2 separate regions of the Homo sapiens genome follow, and region 2 is linked to region 1. The links come from fine-mapping of genetic effects on gene expression. A gene starts in region 1. The other region holds a variant in brackets. All regions are shown on one strand. Distances are between the middles of the regions.

The links. PIP is the estimated chance that this variant, and not a neighbour inherited with it, causes the effect.
Region 2: its variant is fine-mapped to the expression of FBXO46 in whole blood (TOPMed, PIP above 0.99).

What each region holds. Positions count from the first base shown.
Region 1 is chr19:45,724,188-45,735,325 of GRCh38, reverse strand. FBXO46 (F-box protein 46) reads left to right here and starts at 4,430. Exons shown (of 2, transcript NM_001080469.2): 1 at 4,430-4,477. It overlaps MEIOSIN (meiosis initiator), which reads right to left and starts at 1,887. Exons shown (of 15, transcript NM_001310124.2): 1 at 1,660-1,887. RefSeq lists enhancers at 4,103-4,232, 4,323-4,432 and a silencer at 5,281-5,575.
Region 2 is chr19:45,697,846-45,708,983 of GRCh38, reverse strand. It overlaps QPCTL (glutaminyl-peptide cyclotransferase like), which reads right to left. Exons shown (of 7, transcript NM_017659.4): 4 at 10,285-10,437; 5 at 10,084-10,183; 6 at 7,070-7,186; 7 at 4,997-6,080. The coding sequence ends at 5,935. Among named protein-coding and RNA genes, the nearest start is that of QPCTL, 11 kb to the right of the region's middle. RefSeq lists an enhancer at 1,825-2,054. The variant C/T (reference allele first, on the strand shown) is at 5,980.

The sequences.
Region 1 (11,138 bases):
TGGGCAGGAACCCTGATGGGCACCCTTCATCTTCCCTATGATGCTCCTTTGAGCACCCAGAGATCCCAAAATAAGAGTCCCTAGCCCCAACAAATTATGGGCCCAAAGACCCAAATTAAACAGCTAAACCTTGGCCAGAAGTGGTAGCTCACACCTGTAATCCCAGCATTCTGGGAGGCCGAGGCAGGCAAATCACTCGAGGTCAGGAGTTTGAGACCAGCCTGGCCAACATGGTGAAACCCCATCTCTACTAAAAATACAAAAATTAGCCGGGCGTGGTGGTGCACGACTGTAATCCCAGCTACTTGGGAGGCTGAGGCAGGAGAATCACTTGAACCTGGGAGGCGGAGGTTGCACTGAGCCAGGATTAAGCCACTGCACTCCAGCCTGGACAACAGAGTGAGACTGTGTCTCAAAAAACAAAAACAAAAACAAACCCCTAAACCTCTAAAAAGGCACTAAAACTAATACTTTAGAGTCCCAAAATGAGGACCTAAATCCTCACTTTGGAGCCCTCCCAAAGCCAGGTACAGTGGCTCACGCCTGTAATCCTAGCACTTTGGGAGGCCAAGGCAGGAGGATTGCTTGATCTCAGGAGTTTGAGACCAGCCTGGCAATATGACAAAACTCCACCTCTACAAAAAAAAAAAAAAAATTACCTGGGCATAGTGGCACATGCTTGTAGTCCCAGCTACTTGGGAGCCTGAGGTGGGGGGATGGTTTGAGCCCAGGAGGTCAAGGCTGCAGTGAGCTAAAATCGCACTACTGCACTCCAGCCTGGATGACAAAGTGAGACCTTGTCTCAAAAACAAAAAAAAAGGAGCCCTCCCAAACCTACAAACCCTAAATTCTAATACTGAGATACCCCAGACCCTCAAACTGTCAACTTCTGATCTTCAAATATGATCCTAATACTAAGATTACAGACTGCAAGCTGTAACACTATGAACCTATATCCTAAGATAAGAAATCCAGGCCCCTATGAAACAAATCTCACTTCTCCAGATTGACCTCTTAGACGTCCAAACTGTCCCTCAAATTGTGGCCCCAACCCTAAAACTGAGATCTCGAATGTGGGTCCTACTCTGAAACCCCAGACCCTAAAACTGGAGCTCCCATACTCAATGTGGGCACTCCAGGCCCTAAAACGTGCTTCTAAAGACTCAAACTGCGACTCCAGATCCTAAAGCTTCATACTCTACATTGGGATTTAGGCCCTAAATCTATACTGAGGCTTCAGTTGCCCCAAATCAGGCTCCAGACTCTCAAAATGTTACATCATAACTCAGAACTAAGACTTCCAGATCCCCAAATTGGGATCTCTGGATTCCAAGGAGAAAGCTTCCAGTCACAAAACTCAAGCTCTTCAGATTCCAGAACTAGTCACCCCTAGACACAAATCCCGAGATCCCAGATCAGAACTCGAGAGCCCGGATTCCCAACACAAACAGAGTCTTCCGTTCCTCAAACTCGAACCTGGACCCCCGGCTTCAAACCCAAACTCCGTCGCCCGTGGCCCTGCACCCAGAGCATGTTCTATTCCCCTGAGCCCCCCACCGAGGGAAGCTCCTGTGGGGATCCCGGGTTCCCCTAAGCCCAGCTAGTGCTGGGGGAGGCCCCCTGCCCCGCGCCCCATTCCCCTTGGCCTCCAGCACCCGCCTCAGGGCGTGCAAAATGGCGTGAGGCTGCCCCCGCCGTTCTGGTTTCTCCGGGCCCCACTCTAGGGAGCCCGATCAGACAGCGTCTCGCGCGGGTCCCGGGAAGCCGGCCGTGCGCGCGGGGATCCCAGACGGTCTCGGACACCACGTTCCCAACCGGGCTTGGGGTTGGGTGCGAATCCTCCCGGCGCGAGGATCCTGCGCGAGGCGTGAGGAGCAGAGCAAGAGTGCGTTCCTGAGGCCAGGCCACGCCCCTACCAGTTCCAGCCAAGATGTGCTGGGCACGAGACGACGGGGTTGAAAGGGCAGGGTGCAAGTGGCCGTGCGCACGCGCGCCTCGGGAAGGGCCCTGTCGTCTTGCACAGCGTGAGCTCGGCCTCGAGCCTTCTGACAAGGCCTTGGTCGGCGTGAGCCGCTAGGTGACCAATCAGCGCCCGCTCAGCCACCCGCCTTTTTAAGCGGTCACGCCCCTGCACGACCCGCGTGGTCCAGGGCCGTTGCATCCCAAGTAGGCTGGGTTTCCTCAACTGCCAACTCTCAGGAAGAGAGAGAGAGCGAGCTCGCCTGTGTCCCTTCTGGCCCTATGATGTCCCATTTCCACCTTTTCCCTTCAGTTCGTGATTCATGAGGGCCTCCTGTGTGCCAAGCACCAGGCTAGATGGTGGGAACTTAGCCACTGTCTTCCCAGTACAATCGAGAAGACCGTGAGAACCTCCGAGACCATGAGAATCCGGTGAGACGGGAACTCGGTTAATGCAGAGAACAATACGTTGGGAAAGGATTCAAAGAGGAGGGCCATTTGAATTGGGCCTTCTTGGGAGGACGAGGCGGGCGGATCACTTGAGGTCAGGAGTTCCAGACCAGCCTGGCCAACAATGGTGAAACCCCGTCTCGGCTAAAAATACAAAAATTAGCCGGGCATGGTGGGGCGCGCCTGTAGTCCCAACTACTCCAGAGGCTGAGGCAGGAGAATCATTTGAACCTGGGAGGTGGAGGTTGAATGAGCTGGTATCGCCACTGCACTCCAGCCTGGGCGACAGAGCAAGACTCTGTCTCAAAAAAAAAAAAAAAAAAAAAAAGGAAAAAAAAGAAAGAAAAAGAATAAAAGATTTGGGCTTTTTTTTTTTTTTTTTTTGGTAGAGACGAGGGTCTCACTTTGCTGCCTAGTTTGGTCTTAAACTCCTGGACTAAAGCCAGTCTCCCGGCTGAGATTATAAGCATGAGCCACCGCACCCAGCCTGGAAAATACGTCTTAAGGGGAGATGATCTAACGACCTAGTCAAGAGTAGAAACCCTGAAATCCAATACATTTCAGTTCAAATCGTTTTCTTGGCTGTGTTGCCAGCGACAAGAGGCTTAATCTCTTTCTGCCTTATAAATTTGGGATTGTAATTCCTACCAGGGTTGTCTGTAGGGTGTCTGGCATATAGTTCCGATGCAATAAATATTTACTGAACACATGTTTACGCTGTTCTAGGTGCTTGAACAAGGTACACAAAGATCTCTGCCCTCCTGGAGCTTCTTCTTCTTCTTCTTCTTTTTTTTTTTTTTGAGACGGAATCTCGCTCTGTCCCCCAGGCTGGAGTGCAGTGGCGCGATCTCGGCTCACTGCAAGCTCCGCCTCCTGGGTTCACGCCATTCTCTTGCCTTAGCCTCCCGAGTAGCTGGGACTACAGGCACCCGCCACCCAGCCCGGCTAATTTTTTGTATTTTTAGTAGAGATGGGGTTTCAGTGTGTTAGCCAGGATGGTCTTGATCTCCTGACCTTGTGATCAGCCCGCCTCGGCCTCCCAAAGTGCTGTGACTACAGGCGTGAGCCACCGCGCCCGGCCTTCTTTTATTTTAAGAGGCAGCAGGGTCTCATTCTGTCGCCCAGGCTGAACTGCATGGAGGGCGGTGGTGTAACACTAGCTCACTGCCTCGAACTCCTGGGCTCGAGCGATGTGGAGCTGCTATTCTATGATGTGGACTAACTCCTAATGTATGGGACTTTCCTTCCTCCTAAGGCTTAATTTTCTCATTTGTAAATCAGGAGGTAAGAAAGGAGGGGACGGGCCGGGCGCGGTGGCTCACGCCTGTAATCCCAGCACTTTGGGAGGCCGAGGCGGGTGGATCATGAGGTCAGGAGTTCAAGACCAGCCTGACCAACATGGTGAAACTCCGTTTTTACTAAAAATACAAAAACTAGCCGGGCGTGGTGGCGGGCTCCTGTAATCCCAGCTACTCAGGAGGCTCAGGCAGGAGAATCGCTTGAACCCAGGAGGCGGAGGTTGCAGTGAGCCGAAATTGCGCCACTGCACTCCAGCCTGGGTGACAGAGCAAGACTCCGTCTCAAAAAAAAAAAAAAAAAGAAGGGGATGGATGGGAAGGAGTTTGGAAAAGCACAAGGAGCTGTTAGCTATTGTGTTGATCGGCACAAATGAATCAATAAATTTGCTCTTCCCCAACTCTCCACCCCTCACCAACACCCTATTGCAATATTCTCAATTCCCTTCCCAAGGGCCTCGGGCAAAAATGGAGCCCTCCTGGCTAGACTCCATCTCCCAGCGCGCCCAGCGGGGAAGCACCCTGCGCTTGCGCTGCCAAGTCCTCCCCGGCTTTGTCTCCCGGGAGTTCGAGTCGTTCTTTTCCTCCGCCCGCCTAATTTGCTTCCTACCCCACCTCCAAGCTTGACCGTGCTGCCTTCTGGGGGATGTAGTCCGTGGCTGCCCGGACTTCAATTCCCAGCGGGCTTCGGGACGAGAACCCGGAAGGGGAGGCTGGAGAGGAGCGAGTGGGGGAAACCCGCGTAGCCGAGGGAGATGCAGCGCGCGGCGATGGTGAGAGCCCAGGCGCGGGCCGGGGGCGCTGGAGAGTCGGGACGGGGGTTCGGGACCGGGTGACGAGGGGGAAGAGGCAGGGGCGAAAGAAGGGGCTGGGTGAGGGGAGATTGCCTGGGGGAGAGGACTGGGAGGAATGGGAGCCGGAGGTAGTAGTAGAAGAATGGTGGCTTGGGGAGGGGTCTTGGAGGTGGGGTGGGAGTGGAGCTTTGGAATTGATTGTAAAGGGGCTCAGAGCTGGGGAAGTGGGCCCCGAGTTGGAGACTGGGCTGGACATCCAGGTAGAGGCCCTGAAGGGGTCGATTTCGATGGGGGCTTAACCTGCGGCGAGGGTATGAGGATCAGGGTTAGGATGAGTGAGGGGGTCTGGAAGCTCCAAGGGACAGGCGAACGGTGGACGCAATGGGTTGGGGCCTCTGGATCGGATTGGGGGCAGGAAGGCAAGTTGAGGAGGTAGGAGGGAGAAATCAGTGGTAGGATAGAGTGTGGGTTTAGGCTCCAGGACTGAGGGTGGGGTAAGGAGCGTGAAATTAGGGGCCTGGATGTAGTGATAATTTCCCTAGTCCCGCCAGAGACTCCCGGTAAGCTGGACAGGCACAGAACTGTAGGATAATACGGCCAGAAAGGGCCATCGAGACAGGCTTTCGCACCCTCACTTCCCCGGTGGAATTTAGAAGAGTGTAATGGTTTATCCCTATGAGAAGTACAGCATTCATATCCCCTATTCTTCCACCCCTTTGTGCCATGGACAAATCTGTGAGCCTCAGTGCCCTTATCTGTAGTATGGGAACAGCAAGCATGCCTCTGAGAACAGGGTTAAAGGGAGTCATTAAAATCGTTACTATTAGTGGGAGAGCTGGGCTGTGAAGTTTCAGTCTCAGAGCTGTTGGTGGGAAGTTCTCCGCCCCCGGAATGTGACTGGGTTACAGGTGCTAATGGATTTCCTCCTTTCCAGTCCAGTCCCAGAGGCGTTTTCTCAAAAGCTGGCACTGATCTGGGCACACACCCCAGCTCAGAAGCATGTAGGGGCTCCCCACTGTGGATTACAGCTAACGCTTATTGTTTTACAAAATGCCTGGCCCTGTCCTTAGCTGTTTGTACACATTAACTCATTTAATTCTGATAACACCCCTGAGGGGTAGGTGCTGTTATTTTCTCCATTTTACAGAAAGGAAGCAGAAGTACAGAGAAATTAAGCAACTTTCCCAAGGCTATCCAGCATTAATTGCTAGACTCAGGATTCCGATCTTGGCAGCCTGGCTCAGAATCTGTGCTTTCAGCACTATAATTTAGTCCTCTCTCCATACTGAAATATACAATGTGATGAGTAGAGACAGCGAACAAAGCAGTCTAGAATATTAGTTCTGCCATTTACTTGCTATATGACCTTAGGCAAGTCTTTTATTTATTTTTATTTATTTATTTAGAGACAGTCTCCCTCTGTCACCCAGGCTGGAGTGCAGTGGTATGGCTAACTGTAGCCTCTGCCTCCCGGGTTCAAGCGATTCTCCTGCCTCAGCCTCCTGAGTAGTTGGGATTACAAGCATGTGCCACCACGCCCTGGCTAATTTTTGTAGTTTTAGTAGAGACAGGGTTTCTGCATGTTGGTCAGGCTGGTCTTGAACTCCTGGCCTCAGGTGATCCACCCGCCTCGGCCTCCCAAAGTGCTGGGATTAACAGGCGTGAGCCATTGCGCCTGGCCCTATATTTATTTTTATGGTTTTTTGTTTAGTTTTGTTTTGTTTTTGAGGCGGAGTTTCGCTCTTGTTGCCCAGGCGGAGTGCAATCTTGGCTCACCGCAACCTCCGCCTCCCGGGTTCAAGCAATTCTCCGCCTCAGCCTCCCGAGTAGCTGAGATTGCAGGCATGCGCCACCACGTCTGGTTAATTTTGTATTTTTAGTAGAGACAGGTCTTGAACTCCCGACCTCAGGTGATCTGCCCGCCCCAGCGTCCCAAAGTGCTGGGATGACAGGCGTGAGCCACTGCGCGCAGCCTTTTTATTTTTTTAAAGACAGGGTCTCGCTCTGTTGCCCAGACAGGCTGGAATGCAGTGGCGCAATCATGACTCACTGCAGCCTCAACCTCCTGGGCTCAGGCGATCCTCCCACCTCAGCCTCCCAAGTAGCTGGGACTAATTTTTTATTACACACGGCTAATTTTTTATTTTTATTTTTGTAGAGACGCGGGTCTTACTTTGTTGCCCAGGCTGGTCTCAAATTCCTAGGCTTAAGGGGTCTTCCTGCTTCAACCTCCAAAAGTGTTGGGATTGCAGGCGTGAGCCACCACGCCTGGCCCTGGGCAAGGGTTCTTCTTTTGGGTTCTTCTCACCTATAAAATGGGATCAGTAACCCTAGGAAGGTGAGAAGTTTCGGGAAGATAATGCAGTATAGTGGAACTTACTTTATGAGCCCTTACTCCAATACTTATGGAAGGGCTCAGTACGTGTGAGTTGTTGTTTTTGAATGTCAGTGGGAAAGAGAAGGCAGTAGAGAGGAACCAAGAGGGAAGATGTCAGGCTGTCTCCTTTCTCTCTCATGTTGTCACCATGTCCCTGCCCTCCACCTCTGGGCTCCTAAATCCAATTACGACTTCTGGAGAGTGTGCTTACAAACTCAATCTGTGGGCTGGGCATGGTGGCTCATGCCTGTAATCCCAACACTTTGGGAGGCCATTGCGGGCAGATTGCCCGAGGCCAAGAGTTTGATCAAGACCAGCCTGGCCAACATGGCAAAACCCCATCTCTATTAGCTGGGCGTGGTGGCGGGCGCCTGTAGTCCCAGCTACTCAGGAGCCTGAGGCAGGAGAATCTCTTGAACCCAGGAGGTGGAGGTTGCAGTGAGCCAAGATTGTGCCACTGCACTCCAGCCTGGGCGACAGAGTGAGACTGTCTCAAAAAAAAAGAACAAGGAAACTCAGTGTGTCCCCATTCCCATTCCTGTCCCCGCCAAATACCCAGTCTGGCCTTACTCCAGGTGTTTCAGTGAAGAGAAAATATTTCTAACTAGGTTTTTCTTGTTGTTGTTGTTGTTAGTTTGCTTTTGTTCGTTTAACTTTTGGGTCATTAAGGCCTCATTGGGCAGTTTGACAACTTTGTAAATTCACCTTGAAACAGTTTGGTTTATTGTGAGCTTTCTGGGCTTAATTCATTGGCTGTGATAGTAAGCTTATGGTTGAAAACACTGGCTTCAGAGAGGCGCAGGGTCAAAACCCTGCTTCTGTTGCTGTGTGACCTTGGCCAAGCTGCATTCCCACTCTGGGCCTCAGTTTTCTTTTCCCTTTTTTTTTTTTTTTGAGACAGAGTCTCACTGTTGTCCAGGCTGGAGGCCAGTGGTGTGATCTTGGCTCACTGCAATCTCCGCCTCCCGGGTTCAAATGATGTCTTCTGCCTCAGCCTCCTGCGTAGCTGAGATTACAGGCTTGTGTCACCACGCCCAGCTAATTTTTGTATTTTTAGTAGAGATGAGGTTTCACCATCTTGGCCAGGCTGGTCTCGAACTCCTGACCTCAGGTGATGCACCCTCCTTGACTTCCCTAAGTGTTGGGATTACAGGCGTGAGCCACTGCTCCGACCTCTTTTTTTTTTTCTTTTTTTTTGTTTTGAACCAGGGTCTCACTTTGTTGCCCTGGCTGGCATGCAGGGGCATCATCTTGGCTCACTGCAACTTCCACCTCCCAGGATCAAGGGATCCTCCCACCTCAGCCTCCTGAGTAGCTGGGACTACAAGCGTGTGTCACCACACCTGCCTAATTTTTGTAGAGTCAGCGTTTCACCACGTTGCCCAGGCTGATCTTGAACTCCTGACCTCAAGTGATCCACCCGCCTAGGCCTCCCAAAGTGCTGGGGTTACAGGCATGAGCCCCAGTGCCCAGCCAGCCTCAGTATTCTCATGTAAAAATGGGACCACATTTAAACTCTGAGCTTCTCGTAAGGAGTTGACGTGGTAACTGATGAGGTGGCATATATAAAATGCCTGGGGTGTATTATGCTCTCAATAAGTGTGAGGTCTTTCTATGATTTTTATTCTTTCAAGAAAAGGTACTGAGGCTGGGCAAGGTGGCTCATGCTTATAATCTTGGCACTTTGGGAGGCCAAGGTGGGAGGCTGGGATTAACAGGGTGGCAGGATCAGTGGAACTCAGGAGTTTGAAATCAGCTTGGGCAACACAGGGAAAATTCATCTCTACAAACAATTTTTTTTTTTTTAGACAGTCTCGTTTTGTTGCCCAGGCTGGAGTGCAGTGGCATGATCTTGGCTCACTGCAACGTCCGCCTCTTGGGTTCAAGCAATTCTCCTGCCTCAGCCTCCCAAGTAGCTGGGATTACAGGTGTACACCTCTATGCCCTGCTAATTTTTATATTTTTAGTAGAGACGAGATTTCGTTGTGTTGGCCAGGATGGTGCCAAACTCCTGGCCTCAAGTGATCCACCCGCCTCAACCTTCCAAAGTGCTAGAATTACAGGTGTGAGCCACCGTGCCCAGCCATTTTTTTTGTTGTTGTTGTTAGATGGAGTCTTGCTCTGTCTCCTAGGCTGGAGTGCGGTGGTGCGATCTCAGCTCACTGCAGCCTCAACTTCCCGGGCTCAAGTGATCCTCTCACCTCAGCCTCCTGAGTATAGCTGGGACTACAGTTGCATGCCACTACACACAGCTAATTTTTGTATCTTTTTTGTAGAGACGGGTTCTCACTATGTTGCCCAGGCTGGTCTTGAACTCCTATGCTCAAATGATCCGCCCGTCTTGGCCTTCCAAAGTGTTGAAATTACAGGCATGAGCCACTGCACCCAGCCTCAAATAAATTTTTTAAAAAATTAGTCAGGCTTGGTGGCATGAGCCTATAGTCCCAGCACCTCTGGAGGTTGAGGCGGGAGGATCACTTGGGCCCAGGAGGTGGAAGGTGCAGTGAGCTCTGATTGCCCCATTGCACTATAGCCTGGGTGATAGAGCGAGACCATCTCAAACAAACAAACAAAAAAATCAAAGCAACAACAAAACAAAAAGAAAACAGGGAGAAAAATGCACTCTGGAGTCAGAGTGCCCAACTTTGAATCTGGAAAATGGGGTTCATTCCTTAAGTAGTCCATGTGTTTATTTATTCATTTTTATTTAAGTTTTTGAGACAAAGTCTGGCTCTATTGCCCAGGTTGGAGTGCAGTGGTACAGTCTCGGCTCCCTGCAACCTCTACCTCCCGGGCTCAAGCCATCCTCCCACCTCAGCCTTCCAAGTAGCTGGGACTGCAGGCGCACACCACCATGCCCGGCTAATTTTTAAAAAAATTTTTGTAGAGACAGGGTTTTGCCATGTTGCCTAGGCTAGTCCTGAACAATGAGACTCAAGCTGTCGACCTGCCCAAACTGCTGGGATTACAGGTGTGAGCCACCGCACCTGGCCCACAAGTGTTTTAGTTATTTATTTATTTGTTCATTTATTTTTTGAGACAGGGTCTGGCTCTGTTGCCCGGGCTGGAATGCAGTGGCACTATCTTGGCTCACTGTGACTTCCACCTCCTGATCTTACGCCATCCTCTCACCTCAGCCTCCAAAATAGCTGGGACTACAGGGGCATGCCACCACACCTGGCTAATTTTTGTAATTTTTGTAGAGATGAATAATACATGCTGCCAAGGCTGGTCTCGATCTCCTGAGCTCAAGTGATCTACCCACTTCAGCCTTCCAAAGTGCTAGAATTACAGGGTTGAGCCACCGCAGCCTATTTATTTATTTAGAGACAGGGCCTGTCTCTGTTGCCCAGGCTGGAGTACAGTGGTGCAGTCACAGCTTACTGCAGCCTCAAGCTCCTGGCCTCAAGTGATCCTCCTGCTTCAGCCTCCAGAGTATCTGGGACTGCAGGTGCTTGCCACCATGCCCAGCTAATTAAAAAAAAAATTTTGTTGTTGATGGGGCACAGTGGCCTCATGCCTGTAATCCCAGCACTTTGGGAGGCCTACATGGGCAGATCTCTTGAGGTCAGGAGCTTGTGACCAGCCTGGCCAACACGGTGAAACCCCATCTCTACTAAAAATACAAATTAGCCAGGCGTGGTGGCGTGTGCTTGTAGTCCCAGCTACTCGGGAGGCTGAGGCACAAGAATCACTTGAACCCCAGGAGGCGGAGGTTGCAGTGAGCTGAGATTGCACCACTGCACTCCAGCCTGGGTAACGAGCAGGCCTCCGTCTCGAACAGAAAAAATAAGAAATTTTTTTTTTGTAGAGACAGGGTCTTGCTATATTGCCCAGGCTGCTCTCAAACTCCTGGACTCAAGTGATCCTCCCACTTCGGCCTCCCAAAGTGCTGGGTTACAGGCATGAGCCACAGAGCCCAGCCCACAAGTGTTAATAGAGCACTTACCATGTGCCAGCGCCTGTATTGGGTGCAGACTCGACCCTGCCATTGGGGAACTTGCTGTTGTCATAATGGTAGGGCAGTTCTGCAAGTATGCGAGCATTTGTGCTCATTTTCAAGTTTGGGTTTCTCTATTCCCAATTCATTTTCAGCCCCTTATGCCAGCTTGGCCTGCTTGTCACTGCTTTCATGGATTTTTTAACATTCTGTCTCCAGCCCTCATTGAATTATCTGAAAACCTATTGGTTTGGGGAAAAGTTGCCAGTCTCTCACTTGTCCCTGATCCTATGTGTCACATCTGGCCACCCTGGGGTGATCTG
Region 2 (11,138 bases), 26 kb after region 1:
ACCTGTAGTCCCAGCTACTCGGGAGGCTGAGGCAGGGGAATGGCGTGAACCCGGGGAGCGGAGCTTACAGTGAGCCGAGATTGCGCCACTGCACTCCAGCCTGGGAGACAGAGCAAGAATCCGCCTCAAAAAAAAAAAAAAAAAAAAAAGAATGATATGTGGGGCTCTGAAGCCACATTTGCTCTCAGGGTGTTTGCTGATGTGGACACACTGGGGTTTCCTACTTGGCAGCCTTACTGGAAGGAGCAGGCAAAAGTCAAGTCCAAAGCCAGCCCACAGTGAGCAACTGCAGGAACTGGGATTCCAGAGAGCTACAAGCTCAGGTAAGGATGACCCGGAAGACTGAAGAGGTATTCAAGAGGCAGAAATCAAATGAAAAAAAAAGAAAGATTCTGATAATCTGTGGTCACAGACTGGCCCTCGGCACAGGTTCGCAGCCAGGTTCACGTCCTGTGTGATACAGGGTACTTCTAGCTGACATGTCTGGCAGAAACAAACACAAGTCCACCTGTGGAAGGAACTGTCATCTAGAAGCCCCACAAATATTTTTGTTTGTTTGTTTTGAGATGCAGTTTCGCTCTTGTTGCCCAGGCTGGAGCGCAGTGGCGCGATCTCGGCACACTGCAACCTCTGCTTCCTGGGTTCAAGTGATTCTCCTGCCTCACCTGCCAAGTAGCTGGAACTACAGGTGCGCACCACCACACCTGGCTAATTTTTTGTATTTTTAGTAGAGACAAGGTTTCACCATGTTGGCCAGTCTGGTCTTGAACTCCTGACCCACCTTGGCCTCCCAAAGTGCTGGGATTACAGGTGTGAGCCACCACGCCTGGCTTTTTTTTTTTTTTTTTTTTTTTTTTTGGATATGGAGTCTCACTGTTGCCTAGGCTACGGTGCAGTGGCACAATCTCAGCTCACTGCAACCTCCGCCTCCCCGGTTCAAGCGATTCTACTGCCTAGGCTTCCCAAGTAGCTGGGATTACAGGGACCCACCACCACGCCCAGCAATTTTTTTTTTTTTTTTTTTTTTTTTTTGGTAGAGATGGGGTTTCACCATGTTGGCCAGGCTGGTCTTGAACTCTTGACCTCAAGCAGTCTGCCCGCCTTGGTCTCCCAAAGTGTTGGGATTACAGGTGTGAGCCACCGCACCCAGCCCACCACAAATAATTTTTCAGGTAATGAGTAGTACACAAATAACCAAACAAATGGAAATAATATGAATAAGAACCAGCAGAAACAACAAAAACACCCACATAGGCTTCACATGATGAAACTGTCAATCACAGATTATAATACAAAATTTATTTTAAACTGTTTAAAAATTTTAAAAGCTTGGAATTATCAGCAAGGAAGCCAAAACTAAAAAAAAAAAAAAAAAAAAAAATCAAAATGGCCTAGTAGGTAGGAAAGGGAAAAAAAACCCACTGACATAACTTTTACAAATGAAAAATGCAAGGCTGGGCACAGTGGCTCATGCCTGTAATCTCAGCACTTCGGGAGGCCGAGGCGGTGGATTGTGACATCAGGAATTTGAGACCAGCCTGGCCAATACAGTGAAACCCTGTCTCTACTAAAAATACAAAAATCAGCCGGGCGTGGTGGCGTGTGGCTGTAGTCCCAGCTACTCGGGAGGCTGAGGCAGAAGAATTGCTTGAGCCCGGGAGCCAGAGGTTGCACTGAACTGAGGTCGTGCCACTGCACTCCAGCCTGAGCGACAGAGCGAGACTCTGTCTAGAAAAAAAAAAAAAAAAGATAAAAGGGTTTGCTGGCTGCGGGAACTTGCCAGGCACCAGCAGCCTCATCTGTACAACAGGGCTAACAGTTCTTACCCCAGATTCAAGCCAAAAATCTGCATAAAGCAGATTAAAGTTAAAATTCTATGGATACTTTTTCTTAACAAATTTCATCTGGCACAAGTGTATTTTTTTTTTTGGTAGTGGTGGGGGTGTATTTGGGGTATTTTTATTTTTATTTTTTTGAGACAGGGTCTCATTCTGTCACCCAGGCCGGAGTGCAGTGACACAATCATAGCTGACTGTAACCTCAAACTCCTGGGCTCGGGAGATCCTCCTGCCTCAGCCTCCCAAGTAGCTGGGACCACAGGCACCATACTAGCTAATTTTAATTTTTTTTGTAGAGACAGGGTCTTTGTTGCCCAGGCTGGTCGGGAACTTCTGGGCTCAAACAGTCCTCCTGCCTCAACCTTCCAAAGGACTGGGATTACAGGGGTGAGTGACCGCACCCAGCCACAGGTACTTTTTGGAAGGGAGATAGGACATGGGGGTTGCGAGCACAGCTGTGAGTGAAAATTTGCACACCATACACAACTCGTTTGCAATTCTCAGTCTCAGCCACCTCACCTGCAAAATGAGAACTGAAATTGTACCTATTTCAGGATTTGTAGTCAGGGAGACTACATAGTTTTGTATATGTAAAAAAAAAAAGTTCTCATGGGCTGGGCACGGTGGCTCACGCCTGTAATCTCAGCACTTTGGGAGGCCAAGGCGGGTGGACACCTGAGGTCAGGAGTTCAAGACCAGCCTGGCCAACATGGCAAAACTCATCTCTACTAAATATGCAAAAATTGGCCAGGCATGGTGGCTCGATGCCTGTAATCTCAGCACTGTGGGAGGCCGAGGCAGGTGGATCACCTGAGGTTAGGAGTTCAAGACCAACCTGATCAACATGGTCCCATCTCTACTAAAAAGTACAAAAATTAGCAGGGCATGGTGGCAGGTGCCTGTATTCCCAGCTACTTGGGAGATTGAGGCAGGAGAATCGCTTGAACCCAGGAGGTGGAGTTTGTAGTGAGCTGAGATCTCGCCATTGTACTCCAGCCTGGGCGACAGAGTAAGACTCTCTCCCCCAAACCAAGAAAATACAAAAATTAGCTGGGCATGGTAGCACATGCCTGTAATCAGCTACTCCAGAGGCTGATGAAGAAGAATCGCTTGAACCCAGGAGGTGGAGGTTGCAGTGAGCCGAGATTGTGCCACTGCAACTCCAGCCTGGGTGACAAGAGCGAAACTCCATCTTAAAAAAAAAAAAAAGTTCTCATGATGCCTGGCACATAGTAGATGCTCAATAAATGTCAGCGAATGTGGAAGAACCTAAATTGAGGACCTATGTTTATCCTCTCATTTGATACCCCGAGTTTCAGCCCTGGAGCTGATTTGGAGGGCAGATGCTCACCTACACAGCGTAGGACTGCTTCCAGGTGCCATCTGTCTCAGGTTTTTCTTTTGAGTCGGTTTGCTGAGCAGCTGTGTATGCACCAAAGTGTCTCCTTAAGGACAGCGTGGGCCAGGCACGGTGGCTCACGCCTGTAATCCCAGCATTTTGGGAGGCCGAGACAGGCGGATCACGAGGTCAGGAGATCGAGACCATCTTGGCTAACACGGTGAAACCCTGTCTCTACTAAAAATACAAACATTAGCCAGGCGTGGTGGCACGCACCTGTAGTCCTAGCTATTTGGGAGACTGAGGCGGGAGAATCGCTCGTACCCGGGAGGCGGAGGTTGCAGTGAGCCAGCATTGCAGCACTGCGCTCCAGCCTGGGTGACAGAGCGAGACTCCGCCTCAAAAAGAAAAACCTCCTGGGCTCAAGTGATCCTCCCACTTCAACCTCTCAAAGTGCTGAGATTGCAGCCATGAGCCACTGCACCCAGTCTGCATTTTTTAATGAGCACCCCAGCTGAGTCTGAAAATTAGGTAGGGTTGGGAAATACTTGCTCATTGGAGTTTGCAGTTACACTGCCATCTCACAGTGCTGTACCAACAGCTGAAGGGGAAAGACAGTGTGCCCTAACTACTCTGCGGTAAATCTAGATCTGTCTTACCCATTCCTCTCATAGATGCTCTCAGACTTTCAAAACCCCATGTTTTCCAAAGTACCTTCTGAGGTATCCTAGTTCTTTTTGTTGTTGTTGTATTTTGTTTGTTTGTTGAGACAGCCTCGCTCTATTGCCCAGGCTGGAGTGCAGTGGCGTGATTTTGGCTCACTGTAGCCTCTGCCACCAGGTTCCAACAATTCTCCTGTTTCAGCCTCCCAAGTAGCTGGGATTACAGGCTCATGCCACCACACCTGGCTAATTTTTGTATTTTTAGTAGAGATGGGGTTTCATCATGTTGTCCAGGCTGCTCTCGAACTCCTGAGCTCAGCTGAACTGCTGGCCTCGGCCTCCCAAAGTGCTGGGATTTCAGGTGTGACCCACCATGCCCGGCCGAAGTATCCTAGTTCTATGAAGTGCTTCCCAATAAAAAGTGTTCCATAGTGAAATACTTTGGGAGCCTCTGGGTTCTGTCTTAAAAATTCACATGATGCAGTGAGGAAACTCATTTTATGTTGTCTCACCCTCTTCTTGGATTTCAGATCCCCCTTGTCATGCAATGTCTATTTACACGAGTTCTACAGAATGGCCTTTTTTGTTGTTGTTGGTGGTGGTGGTGTTTGTTTTGAGACAGGGTGTCACTGTGTTGCCCAGGCTGGTCTTGAACTCTTGGGTTCATGGGATTCTCTCACCTCAGCCTCCTGAATAGCTGAGACTACAGGGTGTGCACCACCACACCTGGCTTATGCAGGTGGTGTTTTGCAGAAACATTGGTTACGCTTTTTTTTTTCTTTCTTTTTTCTGGAGAATGGGGTCATGCTCTGTTGCCCAGGCTGGTCTCAAACTCCTGAGCTCAAGCTATCCCTCTGCCTCTGACTCCCAAAGAGCTGGGATTACAGGTGTGAACCACCATGCCCAGCCAGAAACAATGGCTTATTACCCACTGGGTCTGGAAGAATCTGGACTTCCAAAATATGAGCTTCTGTCTCCTCTGTGCCTGGTTATGAGGACATCCTCTGTGTGCCCCGTGTGGGAGTTAGGTTAGGACTGGTGCAGTAGCAAGGCTGCTGTTCTGGAGAATGAACTGACACAACACAAACCACAGAGAATTCATCTAGCTGGGTGGCATCACTGGGCCAGACCAGTAATAGTCTTTTAGTCTTTTACTCTTTTTAAAAAATATTTATTTATTTATTTATTTATTGAGATGGAGTCTCGCTCTGTTGCCCAGGCTGGAGTGCAGTGGTGTGATCTTGGCTCACTGCAACCTCCGCCTCCTGCGTACAAGTGATTCTCCTGCCTCAGCCTCCCAAGCAGCTGAGATTACAGGCGCCCACCACCATGCCCAGCTAATTATTGTATTTTTAGTAGAGACAGGGTTTCGCCATGTTGACCAGGCTGGTCTCAAACTCCTGACCTCGGGTGATCCTTCCCCCTCAGCCTCTCAAAGTGTTGGGATTACAGGTGTGAGCCACCACACCCAGCAGTCTTTTACTTTTTCAGTTCGCTGACTTAAAGAACAGCATTTTGCCAGGTGCGGTGGCTCACACCTGTAATCCCAGCACTTTGGGAGGCCGAGGCTGGCGGATTACAAGGTCAGGAGATCGAGACCATCCTGGCTAACACGGTGAAACCCCGTCTCTACTAAAAATACAAAAAATTAGCCAGCGTGGTGGCGGGCACCTGTAGTCCCAGCTACTTGGGAGGCTGAGGCAGGAGAATGGCGTGAACCCAGGAGGCGGAGTTTGCAGTGAGCCGAGATCGCACCACTGCACTCCAGCCTGGGCAACACAGTGAGACTCCGTCTCAAAAAAAAAAAGAACAGTATTTGGTCCCTGCAAACCTTTGGACCAAGTGTTTACCTCTGGGGAGGGAGCAAGTTCTTATTCCTCTGGCTGTCATCCCACAGTGGTCTCTTCCCTGTCCTTGAAGGGTGGCAGCTTGAGACAATCAAAAGAAAGAAGGTCTTCCAATTGTAGCACAATTAGGAGACAAAGGTATGAAAAGGACAAACCAGCACACCCTAGGCAGATCCTGCCTGAGCTTCACTGGCCCCCGCTGGGACCTTCTCTCTCACAGTCCTCTCCACAGTCATTGGCCAAGCACGCTAGAGCCCCAGGTATTCAGCCAGGAACACAGCGAGAATGCGGCA[C/T]AAGTTGTGTACCGTGGGTGGGTGGAGATTGACCTCGGTGTCCGCAGGGGTGTGCCAGACAGCAGGGAAGGGCGTGGAGATGAGATGGAGCACGGGTACCCCTGAAGTGACAGAGGAGACTTTGTCAGGTCCACTGCAGCCCACCACAACCCAGGAGCCCAAGCCCAACCTCTAGGTAACCTTGCCTTGCCACCACACACTGGTGAAAGATACTATGTTCTGGCACTTTTTTTTTTTTTTTGAGACAGAGTCTCACTCTGTCGCCCAGGCTGGAGTGCAGTGGCGTGATCTCGGCTCACTGCAGCCTCTGCCTCCCAGGTTCCAGCGATTCTACCGTCTTAGCCTCCCGGGTAGCTGGGATTATAGGCAGGCACCACGACACCTGTCTAATTTTTGTATTTTTAGTAGAGATGGGGTTTCATCATGTTGGCCAGGCTGGTCTCAAACTACTGACCTCAGGTGATCTGCCCGCCTCAGGCTCCCAACGTGCTAGGATTACAGGTGTGAGCCACCATGCCCAGCCTGGCACTTTTTTTTTTTTTGAGATATCATCACCCTCTGTTGTCCAGGCTAGAGTGCAGTGGCTCAATCAAGGCTTACTGCAGCCTTGACTTCCCAGGCCCAAGTGCTCCTCCCACTTCAGCCTCTCGAGTAGCTGGGACTATAGGTGTGAACCACCATGCCCGGCTAATTTTTTTGTATTTTTAGTAAAGACAAGATTTATGCCATGTTGCCCAGGCTGGTTTCAAACTCCTGGGCTCAAGGATCCCCCCCCGCCACCCCGCTCAGCCTCCCAAAGTGCTGGGATTACAGCTGTGAACCACCGTGCCCAGCTGCAAACATTTCTGGAATGCTTGCTATGTGCTGGGTGCTGGTCCAAGTAAGGTCTTTACCGGTGTTAGCATGTTCAATCCCCTCAACAATACTCTAAGATAGGGAGTATTATCCCCATTTTACAGATGAATAAATCAAAGCACAAAGAGGTTAAGGCCACTTAGCACCATTCCCCAGCCCTGGGAAGGGGACTTGGCCAGTTCCAATTTGTGGCTTCCTTGGACACCCACCCTCCATCCCTCCCTGCAGCTGGTACCTCTGCGGAGGAAGGGGATGTGGTCGTCTTCCACAGAGCCAAAGGGCTCCCCGGGTTGGAAGTACATCACTTCCTGGGGATGAGACTGCAGCAGGTTCAAACGGTGCAGACGCTTCTCTGGAAGTGGGGGCGATTAGAGAGGAAGGGTTAGTCCTTAGTAGTCGAAGGTCCCCAGTCCACAAATCAGAGGAAGGCAGAGCACCCAGAGACAAAGCCCTGGTCAGCCCAACAAGAGTGAATGCCAGTTACTCCTTCCTGTGGGCTCACTATGTTCCTGGTCTCATTCAATCCCTCAGAGTCTAAGACATAGACATTCTTTTTTTTGAGACAAGATCTTGTGGCCTGGTGTGGTGGCTCATGCCTGTAATCCCAGCACTTAGGGAGACCAAGGCAGGTGGATCACCTGAGGTCAGGAGTTCGAAACCAGCTTGGCCAACATGGTGAAACCCTGTCTCTACTAAAAATACAAAAATTAGCTGGGTGTGGTGGTGGGCGCCTGTAATCCCAGCTACTTGGGAGGCTGAGGCAGGAGAATTGCTTGAACCTGGGAGGTGGAGGTTGCAGTGAGCTGAGATTGCACCACTGCACTCCAGCCTGGGTGACAGAGTAAGATTCTGTCTCCAAAAAAAAAAAAAAAGATCTTGCTCTCTCACCCACACTGGAGTGCAGTGGGACAATCCCAGCTCAGTGCAGCCTTAATCTCGCTGGCCTAAGTGATCCTTCAGTCTCAGCCTCCCAAATAGCTAGGACTTCAGGCGCATGCCCCCATGCCTGGGTAATTGTGTGTGTGTGTGTGTGTGCGCGTGTGTGTAGAAATGGGATCTTCCTGTGTTGCCCGGGCTGGCCTCAAACTTCTGGGTTCATGTGATCTTCCTGCCTTGGTCACTCAAATTTCTGGGACTACAGGCATGAGCCACTATGTCTGGGCCCTCCGGCCTTTTTTTTTTTTTTTTTTTTGAGACAGAGTCTTGCTCTGTCGCCAGGCTGGAGTGCAGTAGCACAATCTCGGCTCACTGCAACCTCCGCCTCCCGGGTTCAAGCAATTCTCCTGCCTCAGCCTCCTGAGTAGCTGGGAGTACAGGCGCCCACCACCACACCCAGCTAATTTGTGTATTATTAGTAGAGATGGGGTTTCACCATATTGGCCAAGCTGGTCTCGAACTGCTGACCTTGTGATTCGCCCACCTCGGCCTCCCAAAGTGCTGGGATTACAGGCATGAGCCACCAGGCCCGGCCCCCACTGGCCGTTTTACAGATAGGAAACTGAGGCTCAAAGAAATGAAGCCACTTGTCCAAGTTCATCCAGCTGGTAAGATTGGAAACCACGGCTGTCTCACCTTAGAGCCCCTGTCTGGTAATCACTATTACTAATCTCTAGTTCCTTAGAAAGGCTAGGGAGGTAGAGGAAAGGCTGGGTGAGCCTTTATTTTATTTTCTTATTTATTTATTTGTTTATTTATTTATTTATTTAGTGACAGAGTCTCGCTCTGTCACCCAGGCTGGAGTGCAGTGGCACAATTTCAGCTCACTGCAACCTGTGCTCCCAGGTACAAGCGATTCTTCTGCCTGAGCCTCCGGAGTAGCTAGGACTACAGGCACACGCTACCACACCCAGCTAATTTTTGTATTTTTAGTAGAGATAGGGTTTTACCATATTCGCCAGGCTGGTCTCAAACTCCTGACCTTGTGATCCACCTACCTTAGTCTCCCAAAGTATTGGGATTACAGGCGTGAACCATTGCGCCCAGCCAAGCCTTTATTTTTAAAAACAATTTTTAATTTTTTTAATTTTAATTTTTATTATTACTTTTTTTTGAGACAGAGTCTCACTCTGTCCCCAGGCTGGAGTGCAGTGGTGTGATCACAGCTTACTGCAGCCTCGACCTCCCAGACTCAAGTGATCCTACCACTTCAGCCTCCCAAGTCACTGGGACTGCAGGCAGGTGCCACCATGCCTGGCTAATTTTTTTTTTTTTTTTTTTTGAGATGGAGTCTCGCTCTGTTGCCCAGGCTGGAGTGCAGTGGCGTGATCTCGGCTCACTGCAACCTCCGCCTCCCAGGTTCAAGCCATTCTCCTGCTTCAGCCTCCCGAATAGCTAGGATTACAGGCACATGTCACCACGCCCAGCTAACTTTTTGTATTTTTAGTAGAGATGGGGTTTCGCCCTGTTGGCCAGGCTGGTCTCAAACTCCTAACCTCAGGTGATCCACCCGCTTTGGCCTCCCAAAGTGCTGGGATTACAGGTGTGAGCCATCGCGCCTGGCCTAATGTTTGTTTTTATTTTGTAGAGACAGGGTTTCGCCATATTGCCCAAGCTGGTCTGAAACTCCTGAGCTCAAGTGATCCACCTGCCTCTCAAAGTGCTGGGATTACAGGTGTGAGCCACCAAGCCCAGCCTTTATTTTATTTTTATTTTTTATTTTTTTGAGACAGGATCTCATTCTGTTGCCCAGGCTGGAGTGCAGTGGCGCAATCTTGGCTCACTATAGCCTTGACCTCCCAGGCTCTAAGGATACTCCCCAGTAGCTGGGATGACAGGTGCATGCCACTGCACCCAGCTAATTTTTTTTTAAGAGATGGGGTCACCAGGCACGGTGGCTCACGCCTGTAATCCCAGCACTTTGGGAGGCTGAGGTGGACGGATCACGAGGTCAGGAGTTCAAGACCAGCTTGGCCAACATAGTGAAACTCTGTCTCTACTAAAATACAAAAATTAGCTGGGCATGGTGGCATGCGCCTGTAGTCCCAGCTACTCGGGAGGCTGAGGCAGGAGAATGGCTTGAACCTGGGAGGTGGAGGTTGCAGTGAGCCAAGATCATGCCACTGCACTCCAGTCTCAGTGACAGAGCGAGACTCCATCTCAAAAAAAAAAAAAAAAAAAAGATGGGGTCTCCCTATGTGGCCCAGACTGGTGGATGAGCCTTTAGAGTGTAGGTGCCTGTCCTACCCCAGCCCACCGCCCTGTACCCCATACCCCAGGTGGGCTGGGGCCCACCTCCGCATTCACCCTTACCAATGCTCCTCAGCCGATGGAACCAGCGGACCGTGCGAGGGAAGTGGCTGTAGAAGGTGGGATTGGGGGCTCCCAGGAGATCAAGAAGCATAAAGAGCTCCTAAGGAGAAAGGCTAGGACTGGAGGGGCCCGTGCAGGATGACGCCAGCCCTGCTTAACCTGCTCCCTCCCTCGCCAGAAGCCAGGGGACCCTGGTCTTACAATAGCCTGGATCCTGGTGGGGCCGGGGCTGTGAGGTATAGACTCCATGAGCTGGGCCAGGTGCCGGGAACCGTAAAGGGAGTCCTTGGGTCCCCACTCCTTCAGCGCCTCTTCACCATCCAAGAAGAGCAGTTGCAGGGTCACCGGGGCTGCCTGTGGGAGCAGCAGGGGGGTGGCCAGAGCCAGCTCAGGACTAGCCCTCAGCCTCAACATACCCACACTTCTTGCCCGCTTGCATGCTTAAGAGAACACATAAGGTGTCCTCACTCATAGAACGTGGTAGCCAAGAGCACAGATTCCGAGTCAGTTGTCTGGGATCAAATCCGTACTTGGCTGCTTCATAACAAAGCAGGCATGGGGAAGTTACTAACTTCTGGAAGGATCAGTTTCTTCATCTATAAATGGGGTTAATAAGAGGTTTTTTGTTTTTTTTTTGTTTTTTGTTTTTTTTAGAATAAATCTTGCTCTGTCACCCAGGCTGGAGTGGAATGATGCAATCTTGACTCACTGCAACCTCCACCCCCTACCTCCCAGGTTCAAGAGATTCTCCTGCCTCAGCCTCCCATACAGCTGTGACCACAGGTTCCCGCTATCATGCCTGGCTAATTTTTGTATTTTTAGTAGAGACAAGCTTTCACCATGTTGGCCAGGCTGGTCTCGAACTCCTGACCTCAAATGATCCACCTACCTCAGCCTCCCAAAGTGCTGGGATTACAGATGTGAGCCACCGCGCCCGGCAATAACAGTTCTTTTCAAAGGGTAAGGTTTGAATCCAGGTCTTAGAACAGTGCCTGGCATATAACTAAATAAGGGTTATCTCTGATTATTATTCCTCAAGCTCAGTTTGGTGAACC